Regions from separate parts of the Homo sapiens genome. Here region 1 is linked to region 2. Evidence: fine-mapped expression QTL. A gene starts in region 2. The other region holds a variant in brackets. All regions are shown on one strand. Distances are from middle to middle. Region 1 has its middle 80 kb from the start of FOXQ1. Region 2 holds the start of FOXQ1 (forkhead box Q1).

Region 1 (8,327 bases), 80 kb after region 2:
CATGCCACAGGGTACCTGTGCTTCTCACAGTGCTGCTTGGGAAACAGTACATCATGATTCTAAGGAGGCAGACACCACATTGTGCTGGAGGCTCGGGGCCTCCCTCCTTTTGTATCCTTGCCTGCACAGGCAATGGTGTGGATGCTGTTCACTTTCTAGGTTTTGACTCCATAGTGCCTGACCCAGTGCTGGACAAGGCAGGGAGAAGGTGTGTAGACTCAGAACCCCCAGTGCAGCTGGAGGCTGATGCGTGCTCTAAGAAAGCCCCAGGCTGCTTCCCCAGTGCCTGCAGCATGAGCCAGCTTCTGCCAGTATTCCCCAGAAGTGGATGTGTGTGACTGTGCAGCTGTGTGCTTTCTTTGCACATGTGCCCATTTCTGCATGCAAAAGAGCTCATGGGACATAGGGAGCAGAGAGGGAGCAGGCAGACGGCGCTGCTTAGCCTGACTTCTCCCGGTGACCCATGGAAACGTTCCTAATGTTTTCTAAGAGTGTAGGTTCTGGTCTAAACACTTTCATTTTTGGAATGGAGGAAGGTGCTGCATTTTCAGTTAAGGCTGCTGAGGTGACTGAGCCTCATTCAGGGATATGCAGGGACTACAGACTTAGGCATCTCTGGGACCAAACTGTCTCAGGAAGTCAGAAGGATATTAAAGGATATTGGGAGTGCCTTTCCCTGTTAGTGTCAGCTAGCTAGTTGTTTTCTCTTCTTTACTAATAATAATATCTAAGACAGCTGATTGAAACTCCAGGCCTGGAGTCCTACCTGGAAACTCAGTCTGCTTGGCTAGGACCCCCACAAATGATAACTTTTGCTCTCTTCATTGGTCCCTCCCCATGGGACACAGAGATGCTCCTCAGTGGGTCCTAAGACCACCCTCCACACTGAGGGGGATTGCAGTGGTGTCATTTCCTAGAACCATTTCCTAGAACTACAGAATGCTGTGGCCGCCTCTCTCCTGCCCACTGCCCCTCCTTGGGCATTGATGCTGGATTGAACTATGTCCAGGCATCACTGGGTGCTGAGTACCTCCCTCACTGCCCGTCCTGGCGTCACTGGGTGCTGGGTACCTCCCTCACTCCCCATCCGGGCGTCACTGGGTGCTGGGTACCTCCCTCACTCCCCATCCGGGCGTCACTGGGTGCTGGGTACCTCCCTCACTCCCCATCCGGGCGTCACTGGGTGCTGGGTACCTCCCTCACTCCCCATCCGGGCGTCACTGGGTGCTGGGTACCTCCCTCACTCCCCATCCGGGCGTCACTGGGTGCTGGGTACCTCCCTCACTCCCCATCCGGGCGTCACTGGGTGCTGGGTACCTCCCTCACTCCCCATCCGGGCGTCACTGGGTGCTGGGTACCTCCCTCACTCCCTATCCGGGCGTCACTGGGTGCTGGGTACCTCCCTCACTCCCTATCCGGGCGTCACTGGGTGCTGGGTACCTCCTTCACTCCCCATCCGGGTGTCACTGGGTGCTGGGTACCTCCCTCACTCTCCATCTGGGTGTCACTGGGTGCTGGGTACCTCCCTCACTCCCAACCCCGGTTCCTCTGTAGCTTGTGCACCTCCTTTCTTTCCTGGATTCTCCTTCCCCTCTGGTCATTGAGGTTCCAGATGCCTCAAAGAAGACACTGCAAATGGAAGGAAGTATATGGCTTTTGAGATGGATGGTGATGGCTGGCTGGGGCCTTGTCAGGTGTAGATTTTGACCATCAGACCTTCAAGGAGGTGGGGAGGCGTTGGGGTGAAGAGCTGGGGAGGAGCTCAGAGGCTAGAAGCCATGTCCCTTGGCTAAATGGCCAAGGACCTGTGCTCTCAGAGGTGCAAAGAAGCCCAAGGGGGCAGACTGGGAACTTTCTGATGGGCTTTGATAGAAAAAGAACCTGTAATGTGGGAGAGGATGCACATCACCAGAGACAGAGCCTGGAGAGGCACAGGCTGCAGGGGAGTGCCGGGAAGGCTAAGTTTCCCAGGCAGCGAGGCTGCTGAAAGAGGCACGGCTGGGTATAAAGGGGTTTTCCAAATCTACCGGTGGAGCAACGAGAAGAGTGAGGATGGGCCAGGCCTCTGACATCACAGAGGATGTGTTGCTAACAGGAGACGGGAGAAAGCCTGCTCTCTATCAGGGAGAACTATCTTCGTGTCCCAAAGGGATTAAGAGGTGACCAAATCACACCAGCGTGATTAAGAGGCGACAGAAGCTTAGACGGATGAAGAAAGTTAGAAAGCCCCAGGTGGCTTTGGGTGAGTCTGCGACATGAATCCTGATGCGTTGATTGCATTTTGTGTTGGTGGAAGAAGCTGATGAGTCCACAGAGCCACAGTCAGCGCACTTAGAAGAAAGACTGAGAATGAGGACTATTCAAAAGAACAGGCAGATGTGCCTGGGTCAGGGAGATGCCGGCAGGCGAGGTCCTCCCGGTCCCCCGACAGCCTCCTCTGGCTTCTTCCTGCCCACACATAGACATGCCTGTAGTTCTCCTGCTTCCAGGGTGTGGAACACTTTTGGTCCTTGAACCTTTCCGTGTACTTCTACCTAGAGTCCCTTCTCCAACCTCACCCTAGGGATGCATTACTTTTACAATTACCATTGTACATTGTAATGGTATAATTGGAAATTTATACAATTATACTTTTTTTTTTTTTTTTTTTGAGATGGAGTCTTCCTCTGTCACCCAGATTGGAGTGCAGTGGCGCGATCTGGGCTCACTGCAACCTCCGCCTCCTGGGTCCAAGCGATTCTCCTGCCCCAGCCTCCCAAGTAGCTGGGATTAAAGTGTGCACCACCACATCCAGCTAATTTTTTTGTGTTTTCAGTAGAGACAGGGTTTCGCCATGTTAGCCAGGCTGGTCTCAAACTCCTGACCTCAGGTGATCCCACTGCCTCAGCCTCCCAAAGTGCTAGGATTACACTGCGCCTGGCTCAATTATACTTTTAAATTAGAACATTGAAGACCCAGTGCTCAGACAAGACCCTAACCTTAGACATGACTTCCTGTGTGCAGAAAGAACCCACCAGTGTACACAGTTACTGCCTTTTATTTCATATTTTATATTAACTTTTTGGCCCCAAGGAAACTTAGTGTGCCTCTTTCAGAATTTAAAATAGTACTCGGATTTCATAAGATCCCGAAGGTAGATGTCCTTCAATCACCAACGTTTTTCTCATTCACATCTTCAATAGTCTTTCCTAAGAGAAAGGCCAACGCCATGCTTCTGTTGGAAAGTTGGCCCTGAATCCAGGCAGACTTTGGAGTAAAATCCAGCTACCTAGAACCATCAACGCCCTGCATGGACCCAGAGAGTCTTCCCAGCCCGGTGTCCTCTCCTTTCATATCCCCAGGCAGCCGAGGGTCTCCTCTCTCCCAAGGTGGGAAGCAAATCCTATATCCATGAACAACATGGACTCTCTCAGGGTAGGTGGACGCTGTGAATGCAGCCTACAGCTGCCCCCAGTTTTTGAGCAGTTACACAGTGTGGTTCATAACAGCCATACATGTAAGTCAGGGTTTACCAATGTCCACACTGGTGACATCGGGGCAGGCTGCATGTTTACAGTGGGGACTGTCCTGTGCACTGTAGGATGTTTAGAACATCCCTATCCTCTATCCACTGAGTGCCAGGAGCACCCCTTCCTTCAACTGTGATGACCCAAAATGTCTGTAGACATTGCCAGATGTCCCCTTGATGGGGTTCTTTCTGGGAGGCAAAATTGCACTACCTATTGAAAACCACTGGTATACATAGAACAACCAGGGTATTTTTTGTAAGGGAGAGGCGGGTGGGTGACATGTGGGTAAGACATGATGAATCCTGACAGTCTAAATTCTGCCTGTTGGAAATAGAGTTCATTTTTATGTATCCCAAAAACTGTATGAGAGGAAAGAAATGTGTTCTGGTGTGTATCAGGTAGATCTTAAAATAAAATACAGTTGTGAATCTCTTGGGGCCAAATTAATTAATGATTTAGCACTTTCAAAAAATAGGTGTATCTGTCCTAATGTATCCAAGCAGCCTCCAGCATTCAAATGCCACAAGCAGCCTTTTGTGGTATTTCTTCCATCCCATTTTGAAGAAGTCATCTGAGCATGAAGAATCTTTTGAGTCAAAATGTGAGTAATTGTGCTGACTTGTTCTAAACAGCTAACGAGAATCTCTCACTCGAGTGTAAATTTGGGGTGTGTAGGTTTGAGTAAGGCAGTTTATGTAAGATGGGTGTGTTGGTTTGTTAACCAAGGCATTAAGGAGAGGGGTGGTGTGTATCAGCGAATCAAGTGTTGTTGATAGGAGACAGGAAGAAATCGCCTTCTATTGTTCTGTTGTACAATGTGCCTGGGGTTTTACCTTGCTGGCACTTTCTAACTCTGGCTTCCTGACTCCAGAACTGTTTCAAAAACCATTTTCACACCACATTCCTACAATCCTACTGTGTTTTCCATTGGAAATGCCATTTCTGCAATTTTTCACGTCTGTTTAGTTATTTTAGAACCTTGGAATGGGAAGCACCTCAAGATTAAAACCAAA[G/T]TAAACTGATAAAAAATAACACACTTTTCTCCAACCATAACATGTACCTAATTTGTGCAGTGACAGGCTCAGGGAGGAAAGAAGTGTGGGGCCCGTGGAGGACCTGGGGAAGCCACTGTCTGTGCGAGCTCCCATTGCCCTGGTCTTTTCACTGGTGAAGCATAAGAAATACAGGTGCCCGATCTTGACTCCTATGGAAAGCTTTAAGTGCCTCAGAGGTTCAGACAATCTCTTAACTTGTATTGAGCTACAGAGTTTGCTGTGCACTGGGAACCAAATTATAGCACTTTGGGAATTCTCCCCCAAATCAACAGGAAATAGATCTTTAAAGGTCTCTCAGCTGGGGCTTGGGTACAACGTTATTGGAAGGAATACCACTATCAAGACCTTGGTGTTCAAGCCCTCCTCATCAGTGAATCCAAGTAAAAGTGACTATTGCGTGCTTTGTGTTCTCTGCTAAATCAAATGCTATGGATTTCGTTTCTTTTGGCGTGTTTTGGAACCCTGGAACAGCTCTGGCTTTGGTGTTAAGTGCTTCCCTGGACGTAGCCAATGTGGACACTGCTGGCTCTGCAACCTGACTGGATGTGATGCAACATAGGACTGCATTGCCAAATATCCCACCTGAGTGTGGCTTAGTGAATTTCTCATTGCCAGTCCTGGAGTATCACCCTTCCGTGGTGAAAGCCTGGCTCACTCAGCCCCCCACAAGAGTGAGGCAGTGCATAAGCAGGGAATTCTGCACCTAGATGCAATGGGTTTAAGTTTTCTTCCCCAGATTTGTGGCATCAGAGGAAGACAGCCACAGAATTTTGGGCAAGGCACTCTAGATTATGGGGATTTAGTTTCCTTAGCAGTAAAAGGAAGGAGTTAACTTAGACCTCTTTGTTTCTAGCACTCTATTACTTTGAGTTTATTAGAGCAAGTGAGTACCTCTATCTGTAAGAGGAGACAAATAACATGAACTTAGGACCAAGAGGCTGTCTTCCCAGTGTTTGTTGGGGATGTTTACTTTGGGATAAATACTCTGAATAACGTCTCCTCTTTAACTCATTGAGAACACGTTTGTCTGCAACAGAAGCTGGCAAACTATGATCTTCTGGTCAAATGCAGCCTGCCTCCTCTTTTTATAAATAAATTTCTACAGGAGTACGGCCACGCTCATTCATTTAGACATAGACTGTGACTGCAGTTGCACTAGGAGGGCACGGTTGAGGGGGTAGGGCAGAGACCACCTGACCTACGAAGGCAAAAGTATTTGTGATCTGGCCCTTTACAAAAAAGTCTGTTGACCCCTGGTCTGGAACATCATTCATCCCATAATACTCACCCAGGTTCTGCAACGTGCCATGCTCCCTACCAGCTGTTGGGCACAGAGATAAGCCAGACCCAGTGCCCGACTTGGAAAGATTCCCAGCCTGGTGAATGTTCAATGAAGAAATTAGAGGTTTCTTTATTTAAAACAATAATACAGACAGCAATATTATTCACAAGAAGAATTGCACACTGTTTTTTATAAACACCAGTAGTGACGATTCTTCCCGTTCTCTTTATTGTATCTGTAAGAGATGTGGCTGCCTGTTTGGTAACGTTTCCTGTGTGTCTTTTTTTTTTATGCTAGATTTCAGTGTTCCTTAGAGCAAGGCAATATCTTTTTCTCAGTGAAATGAAAAAAGTAAAAATGATTCTTCACATCAGGTCCTGCTGAAAACATCCCGTGTGCCCATCTTCTACAAAGAGAGGCCAAACCCTTTTGTGCGGGTGCCGAGGCCTCGGTGTCCTGGCTGCCGCTCCCCTCCTGGCTCCCTCGTCCACTCGCCTTCTCTCATGCTCTCAGCTTGGATCTTGCTCAGGTGCTTGCAGTTTCCTGCAGTTTTGGGTCTTCTCGCCTTTCTGCACACCACTTTTCCACCTGATGTCACCCCTGCCCTTTCTTGTGTACCCCTTGAGTCCCCACTCTTTCCCTCAAGGCTCTGTTCAAGTCTCACCTCCTCTGATCCCTTCCTAGGCAAAGATGTTTACATTGTCTTTTGTGCAGCAACCACAGTTTGTATATAACTCCACTACTATACTTATTACACTATATTGTACATATTTGTCTATATCAGTGTTTCTCAGTACAGGGGAGAGTAGCGATTTTGTTCTTCAGAAAACATTTGGCAACATCTGTAGACATTTTTGGTTGTCACAACTTGGGGAGAGGTGGGTGCCATGCTCCCATGGGTGCGTGTAAAGGATGCTGAAGACATCTTACCACGCACAGGACAGCCCCACACACAGGCCCATCTGGCCCCAGGTGCCAACAGAGCCGAGGCTGGGAAACCTTGGTCTACATACCTGCCTTTCCCATTAGGCTGAGCTCCTCATCCGCAGGGGTTGAGACTGGTTCGTCTTTGCGTGTTCAGTGCCTGGCACATAGTGGGCAGTCCATCTTATTGAAAGAGTCAATGTCTTCCATGTATTTTGCCACCTGAAATCCATAGCACAGAGCTAGAGTTATAGCAGGTGCCAATAAACACATGTTGATGAATTGTTAACTGATGAAATGAGAGAAAGGAGAAACACCCTTGCTTGTAATCTGGTGACAAATTGGAACCCACTGCTCTCCAATGAAGTTAGCCTCCTTCAGATCAATCACAGCTTCAGAGGAAAAGGTCCTCTTTCTGCTCAGAATTGTTTGGCATAGAAAACATTTTCGCCATTCCAACCTCCTCGTTCTCACGAAGGGAAAGAAAGGAAGAGAGGATGGGTGCTCAGGTAAGGAGAACTGGCTGGGGCAGAGGGGGTACGCCGTCCTGCCCTGAGAGCCCTGTGAGAGAGTGAGGAGTTTGGATAGGCGTCGGCGTTGAGTGCACTTGGGAAAAACATGTCTCTTGAAACTTCACTGAGAGGTGATGCAAAAAATTCTGCTCCGTGCCCTGCAATTGTTGCCTCTGGGGCTCTACTATCCTCAAGAAAGTTGGGGAATTCCAGGCTGGAAATATTCAGAAAACCATTAGCTAGCTGTCATAATGGGGAGGTGGAGGGCAAGCTACGCAGAGGTCACAGATCATCTGAGGCATTGCTTCAGCGTATAAGCTTGCTTCCCACACAGCTCTTTGAAGAGTGGTTCATTAACCGGGCAGGAGACCACTGGTTTTGAAGCCTCTTTTTCTCTTGCTCAACCTTGGAAAGAGCTGGGTTCCAATGGGACCATCCAACTCACCAGCAGGTAAAGGTGTGAGACAGGGAAAGGGTGCATTTGCTGAATATCTAAATCCACTCGATAATGGTGTCTGCAGGCTTTGATCCTCAGTGCCAGAATTGTGAGTTCAAATGAAATCTGAGGATGGAATTAACTCCAGGCATTAAGAAGGGCAGAAGTGCAGTTTCTTTGTTGAAGGAGGCCACCCACTCGTAAGTTTACCTTGCTAGCCTGTAGCGCTCCAGGCAATCTGTCCTTTTTGAGCAGGTGCTGTGGAATACTATCTCCTAGATAAACCCTTGATTGTGGGCTTTGAGTTCTGGCGACCCATGTTTAAAGGGATCACGCCAGCCCATCAATGGTTAACCGTGGAGAAATGAACCTTCCCAGAGGAGGTTATTTGTTCTAGATGTTGCCGTTCTGGTGACTTCAAGGAAATGGTGTGTGATCGTGTTTGTATGTGTGTGGCTTCTCCTTTCTTAAACACATAGATTACAGTGTGATTACATTGTGATTTGGAAATCGGTGATTCTAGATTGTGCTGTTGTGCTGACAGAGGGAGGACTGGATTACACAATGATGATATTGTAGGTGGTGCAACCCTCAGGCGCTCGGCCAGCC
Region 2 (8,327 bases):
CTGTGCCGTCGCCTTTCCTCCTGGGCTGCCTCCGACCCAGCACTGAGAAACCGAAACTCCCCGGGGCTGGGTGTGTGAAGGAGGGACAGGGAGGAGGCGACAGCCCAGGACCCTCCAATGCCCCCGCCCCGCCCGCCCAGTGTGATGTCCTTCTAGTCGTGGGATACTGAGCTTGGAAATGGTCATGAAATAGGGGTGCAAAACTCAAGCGACTCTGACAATTTTTTAGAAACGCTTATAGTCCCTGGGGAAACAAAGAAGGGGACCAGAAGCTAGGAGGGGACAGCATCCTACCAGACTCCAGGGTGTTCATTAGCAAGGAAGGATTTATTTTTTCTTTTGAGGGGAGGGCGGAACAGCCGGGATTTTTGGAACACTACCTTTGTCTTTCACTTTGCTGTTTGTGTGTTAACACGAATAAATCAGAAGCGACTTTAAATCTCCCTTCGCAGGACTGTCTTCACGTATCAGTGCAGACAAGAAAACAGTGGCTTTACAAAAAAGATGTTCAAGTAGGCTGCACTTTGCCTCTGTGGGTGAGGCACACTGTGGGAGAGACAAGGTCCCCTGGAACCAGAGGTGGGAAGGACAGAGCTGGCTGACTCCCTGCTCTCCCGCATTCTCTCCTCCATGTGTTTTGAAGAGGGAAGCAACATGTTGAGGTCTGATCATTTCTACCCAGGGAACCTGTTGTCCCCTGCCCCTAGTTGCTGGTCTGTTTCAGGTTTATTTTGGGGTCGGATTATTGGCCCTGTGGGTGCAAATGTCTACCTCTTGCCGTAATTCAACCCTATTATTATCACTCTTTATGATTACTAAGTAGATGTCATCCAAATCAGTCAAGACTCATCATCTGTTAACCTGATTTAGGGAAGATTGTTTCTCTCCCATTCCTGCCAAAAGAGAGCATCCTGAAATAAACGCCACCCTCCTTCCCCACCTCATTATATGTAGAGCTCAAATCATCCTCCTGTCCTGGGTAAGATGGGATCTACCCAAGAATGGCAGCCATGGCAATGAGGCCTGTTTCTAGTCTCTGCATTTCCCACAGTTTGTATTACTCTCTAAAATTTTGCAATCCATGCATTGTTAAAACTGTATTGCCTAGGAACCTACTGAAGAACAGGTGTTCACCCTGGTACTCCCACTGATGAAAATCCTCCGTTACATTTATAATATGGGAAACTGTCTCTCCCTCTCTCCAGGAGGCATTTTCTCTTCAGACTGCAACTGAAACATGCAAGACATTGCCACTGCTTCAAGTGAAATCTTTACAGATGAGGGAAGAGTGAAAAAAATACTACCCATTGGTTCACACCCAGTTGAACTTTTGCATTCCTAAAAAGGTGGATGGTTTTGTTTTGACAAAAACACTATGACATTTAAATTGCTTTTGAAATTGCCCTGAAGACACCTTTGATATTTTAAGATAGTCTTATGACAAAAAAGTTGTCAAAAAAATTGGGGCTCCAACTTTTTGAGCCCCAAATCGAAACCAATTTACCTGAAAATATCTGTTTGACTCTAGGCTTGTTAAGAACTCAACTTGCCTGCTAAGGATTCTTGGGGGAGAGAGGGACACTTCCCTCTCATTTGTTCTGGAAGCACTTAGGTGACTAATTAGAGGAGTAATTGGTTTTCAACTTTTAAAAAGCCCATGAATGGAAGTCCTATCTGGAAATCTGTCTAGCAATGCATCTCATACGGAAATCTGCAAGCCCATTCTATAATACCTTTATCGAATTATTCAGGAAAATATTTTTATCTCCAGAGGAAGTTTCTTGAGACCAAAACCTGAGCCCATTTTTTTGGGAGGGGGGACAGACATAAAAATCTCTCCACTTCCAACCCATCATCACAATGTGTTAAGTCAGTTGTTTTATTAAAAAATAAGCACTATGCTTGGGTTTCATAAAATTTATACATGAATATGTACACAGACACAAATAAAATAATATTAAAAATAAAAATCACACTTGCTTTCAAGGCAGTGGTCCTGGCACCCCACATACATAATCAACTTTTCCTTTAAAGAAATTGCTTGGCCCAAGGAGACCACAGTTAGAGAACCACTAATAAAGCTGTAGCCCGTTGCCTGCAACATTTTCAATTCGGGTTTCAAAAATATATAAATAATTTAATTACAAAACCCAACATTTTTTTTCTCTTTTGGCACAGTGAAGCATCGGTCAATAGCAAGAAATCACTGAAGAGCCTCTGACATGTCTCTCACACTCAGTCATACCTGGAAATGCCACATACGTACACGGATGGGGGCCCAGAAACCCCAAACAGTAGTCATATCATTTATAGTGTGGAAAGGTTCCCTGATGTACTTAGGGGGGAGGGAAGGGACATAAATCAATGGAAGTTGCGACAAAAACAGTAGAAATAAGACGAAGCCTGGGCGTTAAAGAAAGACAAAAAAAGTCCTTATGAAGGGAAGGAGGAGCAGGCTTCGCAAAGAAACTAAAACAAGAATTGCTTTGGTCCTCTGTAAAGTTATAAAACACAAAGGAAAATATCCTGGACTAAGTTTAAATACTCCTGTCAAAATGCTTTAGCTTTAAGGCACGTTTGATGGAGATTTTAAAAATTCATCTTCCTCTGGATTCAAAGTGCAAAGTCCGCGCGCGGGCCCGCGTTCCCGCCTCCCCGACGGCGCGCACTCGGCGTTCCCGGGCCCCGCGGCGCTACTCAGGCTAGGAGCGTCTCCACCGGGTACGGCAGGTGCGGGCCAGGGCGGCGGACTGAGGCCGCCTGCAGGGCTGCGGGCAGCCGCAGGGGGCAGTACAGGTGCGCGCCGCCGGCCGCCGGGCCTCGGAGTGGCTTGGCGGGGGCCGCCGCCGGGAGAGGTGCAAGCAGGAGGGGCGGCGCGGTCGGTGGCACCTCGGCCTCGCGCGCGCCCAGCCGCGCCGGCTCGCCCGCGCCGTACGCGCAGAGCGGCAGCAGGGCCCTGCAGGGCGCCGCGGGGAGGAGCGCGGGGAACGCGGGCAGCGGCGGGCAGGGCGCGGCGCCCCACTGAAGCGTCGTCCCGGGGGCCGTGTCCCTGAGGCGGCGGCTGCGGAAGGGCTTGCGCAGGATGCTGTCGATGGCGAAGGAGCTGGAGAACTTGCCCGCGGGGCTGGCGCGCTCCTCCTGGCGGGCGGGCGAGCGCATGCGGGGCGAGGCCGGGGCGGCGGGCGCGGGCGGCGGGGCGGCGGGGAGGCCCGGGGCCTCCTCGGGCCGCAGCCCGGGCGCGGGGACCGGCGCGCGGTGGCTGAGGCGCTTGCGGCGGCGGCGGAAGACCCCGTCGGCGAAGGTGTACTCGCTGTTGGGGTTGAGCATCCAGTAGTTGTCCTTGCCCCAGGGCCGCGAGGGGTCGCGCAGCACCTTGACGAAGCAGTCGTTGAGCGAAAGGTTGTGGCGCACGGAGTTGCGCCAGCCCGTGTAGCTGCCGCGGAAAAAGGGGAACTTGCCCATGAGGTACTCGTTGATCTCCGCCAGCGTCAAGCGCCCGCCCGCCGAGTCGCGGATGGCCATGGCGATGAGCGCGATGTACGAGTAGGGGGGCTTGGGCCGCCGCGTATATGGCTTGCTGCGTGCACCCTCGCCGCTCCCCGCGCCGCCCGCGCCTGGCCCCGCCGCCCCGGCCTCCGCGCCCTCCGCCACCACCGCTGCAGCAGCTGCTGCCGGGATCGCCTCCTCCGCGCCCGGCCCGCCTCCCGCACTCTGTTCGCCGTCGCCCTGCGTATCTCTGGCGCCGCCGCCCGCGGCCGGGCTGTTGGCCGCGCAGTCCCCATCTGAGCCCAGGGAGTCGTCTCCCGCCGCCGACAGCGGGGACGGCGCGTCGCTGCCGCCCGCGCCCTCCAGGTCACTGCCCTGCTTGTCCCCGTGGGCCGCGCGAGGGACGAACACCTCCAACTTCATGCCCGCGCACCCAGTCCCTCCCCGGCGTCGTACCCTCTTCCTTCGCGCAGCCTAGAGAAGCTGGTGCCAGGGAAGGGGATGGCGATCCGGGGCCGGGGATCTTCGCCTTTTTCTCCCGGGAGCTCTACCCTGGTCTTCCGAGATAGTCACTTTTCCGGAGTCCTCTTCCGCTGGGCTTTTTCTCTGGAGGGGCTGCAAGTGTTGGGTGGACTATGGGGCGGAGAGGGAGGAGTTGGGTGGGTGTCGCCTTCGGTTCGACGTTGAGACTTTGGGGTGAGTGTGTGCAGGGGCCGCGGTTCCACCCTCGGGTGCCCGAGCACGCCGGGCTTAGAAGGCTTTCCTGCCGGAGAGAAGCAGCATGCGCATCTGCTGCTCGTTAAAGAGCCCAGGAGGGGTTCTTCACTGGCGGTCCCAGGTCCCGCGCGGGCGTCTTCGGGGCACGGAAATGGTGCCGGATGATGTGCGTGCCACCGTGGGGGAAGGTCCGGCGCCTTCAGCCTTGAGCACCCGCGGAGGCGAGTCCCCGAGGCCGCTGCGCCCGCAGCCGCCTTCCCGCTCCCAGCCTCCGGGGCAGCATCTCCCCGCTGGCCTGCCGCGGCTGCGTCTCGCCTCCACCTTCGGGCCGGCCCAATATAACCCTGCGGCGGCTCCGCGGGGGCGGGGCCTGAGCGCGGACGGCAAGGGGTGGGGGAACGAGGTGGCCGAGGTGGTGGCGGCTCCCCAGTTCCCCAGCTCCCCAACGGGCGCGCACCAGGCGGAGGCCACACTGCAGCGCGGCGGCAAAGTCGCTGGCGCAGGTTGTTTGTTTTGGGTCGGCCGGCCCCGCCTTCCTCCTCCCGCCAATGGGGAGCGCGCGCGCCGCTGTGGGTTTGCGCGTGTCTGTGAGTGTGCGTGTGTGCGCGCGCGGGGCCGCTCCGCCAGCCGGCTCCTCCGTTCAGGTGTGGGCCCCAGCCCCGGGCAGCCCGCGAGGGCTCCCTGCGCCCTGGAGTTCGGGGACGCAGTTTAGGCGAGTGCGCCTGGTTGGGGGGACACGCCACAGTTCCCCTAGGGGGACACCTGAAGGGACTGGGTCTAGGGGAGCAGGGACTTTGCTCGGGCCTAAGCTGCACGCGGCGTATGTGCTTCTGTAGTAGTGAAAACGATGCTGCTTACGAAAGCAAACCCCTGTCGTCACTGCAGAGGTGCTGAACAGAAATTGCGCAGGACACTTGCAGTGACCTCTTTCGGGAGCCTTGTGCTGTGCCCCTTCCTATGAGCTCCTTTCAAGGACCATCTTGTCTTTTCCTCTTGTTTTAATGAATGCACTCCTGGGCTTGAAATTGTATGCGCCTTTTTGGATGACCTTTACTCTTGCTCACTAAATGGGCTCCGACTTTCACTTTTCTTTGTCTTACTTTACCTTTTTCTTTACCTGGCTGGTGACTCCTGCGGGAGGACAGCAGCGTCCTCCTCTTCCCCTGGGGCGGCTGTGTCTGGCGCAGGGTGCTGGGCTGTGCCTGCACTTGTGTCCCTGCGGAAGCCTCAGATGCCGCCGAGCTCCGCCGCTTGGTTCCCGGGATCTGACAGTCAACAGGAACGACGGAGAGGGCGTGTTCCCGGGGGCGGGGGCAAGAACAAACCGGTTCACGGCCATTTCTTTCCAATATTCCTTTGGGACTTTTGCTGTGACCTCACTGGCACCAGTGTCGGACAATCTCGAAAGGGGGGACCGTTCCTCACCCCAGGGCGCCCGGGGCGTGATCCCCACGCGGCGTCATTAGTCCAGGGAGCGGGCGCCTCGGCCCCGGGAAGGTGCACTTCCAGCCCGCTGCCCTGCCACGCCGAGTTTCCTCCTTTTTCCTGCCTTTGTTGCACAAAAAGCGACGGAGCCGCTAGTAGGTGGGAGCTCACCTTTGATGTTTATTTTATTACTTTCCACCATTTGTGTTGAAAACGTACACAATCCTCTCTTATCTTTATTCAGGGAGTTTTGAAGCCATTCACAATGGGGCGGGCAACATGACAGCCCCAGCCACAGCTCTGTTATTTTTGTATTTGGGGAAGGATCGCGTTCGGAGATTAGACTGACTTTATTAAGTATGCGCCTCGGGAGCCAGGTGGGGAATGGCTGCTTTTTGGGAGATGAGCCTTTCTGGAGGGGTCTGCTCAGCTCTAGCCTTGGAGTTGATGGTTCACTAGACCTGGAGAGGGAAGTGGGATGAGACAAATATGTATATCTATATATATATAGCGAGGTAAAGAGGCTTGGATTTGGCCAGGGATAAAAGGCGTTCGTAATGAATGTTTTTCTCTCTTGAACTCTGGGGTTGGGCAGGGCAGGAGGGCACATGACTATTTGATGGGGAAGGTAAAGCCAAGGAGGCTTGAGGTGGGACCCGTGGTCGCTACAGAGTCCAAGGGAGGCCTCTTCGAGACTCCAGGGCCAAGGTGTCCTGCCACCAAGGAATGCTGGTCGCCGCCAGGGAAGGTGGCTCACCCCACCTCCATGTCCCACTTTCCCCCTTTCTTACCCAACCTCCTCCCCTCCCCAGCTGCAGGGGATCCTCTCCTTACCCTGATTTCATTTGGGGCAAGGGGGGCAAGGACCTGCCCCACCTTTTATGTCTATCCTGTGGGCTGCTGTCTGCAAGTTTGGAGCCTGAAAAGGTTGGGGGGCAAGAGAGTGAGTTGGAGGTGGGTGAATTCTCAGCTGGAAACCCTTTGCTATTTTTAGAGTGACTTAGGGAATGGGCAGGTGAGAGGTTGCTTGCAGCCACCTAAGTGGACTTTGAGAAGGAAGATGGCATGGCAGGCCGTGGACCACCTGGATAGGATTAAAACAAAACAAAAACAAGCAAACAAACAAAAAAAAACCCTACCTCAGCTAGAATGGAAGCTCCACTAGAGCAGGGTTTTTTTCTTTTTTTCTTCATGACTGTATTCCCCTATCCTTGACACATGAATGTGCCATTTGCTGAGGATAACATGATTGTCTTCTGTTAAAACCAGAAATAACACTGCTTTTTCCATTTGTGGTTGATGTCGGTATCAATTTTAGCTGTTGTTTTACAGCGGGGAAATCATTCACCTTTTGCAGCTATCAGAGAAACCGAGAATGTATGGAGCAGGGCGTGTCTATCCACAACACCCTCAAGGCTGAATACAGTTGGGGAGACCAGACGCTGCCAGACGTCACATGCATTTTTTTAAAGTTTCCCAGAAGTGCTTGGATATTTCTGCCCCTTAATTCCCATTCCTTGGGGAGTACATTGATGGGTTAATAAAAAATGCCTGCAGGTGGAGCTTGACCAAACACTTGTAGGTAAGAAACACCTATTAGCTTATTTTCCCCCTTGCCCTTTAATTTCCATGGAGATAAGTGAATAAACTATGGCAAAAGATAAGTTCATATTTCCATGATCGTATGACCTCCCTGAAGTGGTGATTTTAGGAAGATAGTGCATGTATCTCTGGGCACAAAGTAACTTAATTAACTGTGGAAACTATCTGCAAATTTAACGCTTTCCATAATTTGATAGTGCTTCACTGACCCAGTTCCTAAACACTAATCTTGGGAAGAAAATAATTTAATTCCTAAAATACCTAAGGTGACTCCCTGTGGAAATATTGATGACTTGCCCTATGCATTAGAAGATCACGCAGGCTCCCAGCCCAAAGGGACTACAGAACAATCTTGATCACATCCACCCAGCAACCTGGAAACAGCTTTGAATTTCTTGTCGTGTTAACCTCTGGATCTGAAGAGAGGGTAAACTTAAAATTACCTTCCCATGGGGACCTGGGACTCTGGATGAATCTACAGTACAATGCTGTGAAGAACTGAAGAGCCTCAGGCTTAGAGACCAGGCTAATGTTGAGAGTCCCAGGGCAAAATGCATGGCTCTGAATCCTTGCAGAGTCTCCCTAGGGGCATGGAGAGGGCCCTGACTTGGGGCTCGAGGTCAGGTGGCAGTGAAGGGCCTCTACAGCGATAAAGCCCAGCTGCCTCTTTACCTTTCCTCATAGTGAAAATACATGGGAAGAAAAGGAGTGCTTTGTCCAACTCTGTTCTAGCCCATTTCATGGTCTGGTTGATTCTTTTGGTAGATGCTGAACACTGGAAAAATCCTGCAAGGATTGAAGGTGAGTGTGGAAGTAGACGGAGAAAACTTAGGCATTTTTACGTGTCTGTATTTTTGCTTCTTTCCAAAAATGTTTTAATAGGGTCAGGCTCATTTGTTTGTACATTTACCATGTTTGTTTGAACAGTCTTCTTTCGGTTTCTTGAGCAATGGGCATGGTTTAATCCAAGAATCTTAGAATTTGGCTGGGCATTACTGACCAGGTGCAAAACCAAGGGCTGTGCCTGAAGTTTTCTTTTGAGACCTCAGGAATTATAAGCAGCAAGAAAGCCACTGGGTACCCATTGAATTAAGTAG

Evidence for each region. PIP is the estimated chance that this variant, and not a neighbour inherited with it, causes the effect.
Region 1: its variant is fine-mapped to the expression of FOXQ1 in thyroid (GTEx, PIP above 0.99).

The regions. Positions count from the first base shown.
Region 1 is chr6:1,227,982-1,236,308 of GRCh38, reverse strand. No RefSeq gene overlaps it. Among named protein-coding and RNA genes, the nearest start is that of FOXQ1, 80 kb to the left of the region's middle. The variant G/T (reference allele first, on the strand shown) is at 4,523.
Region 2 is chr6:1,308,287-1,316,613 of GRCh38, reverse strand. FOXQ1 (forkhead box Q1) reads right to left here and starts at 4,516. Exons shown (of 1, transcript NM_033260.4): 1 at 1,856-4,516. The coding sequence starts at 3,909. The coding sequence ends at 2,698. RefSeq lists an enhancer at 3,346-4,062.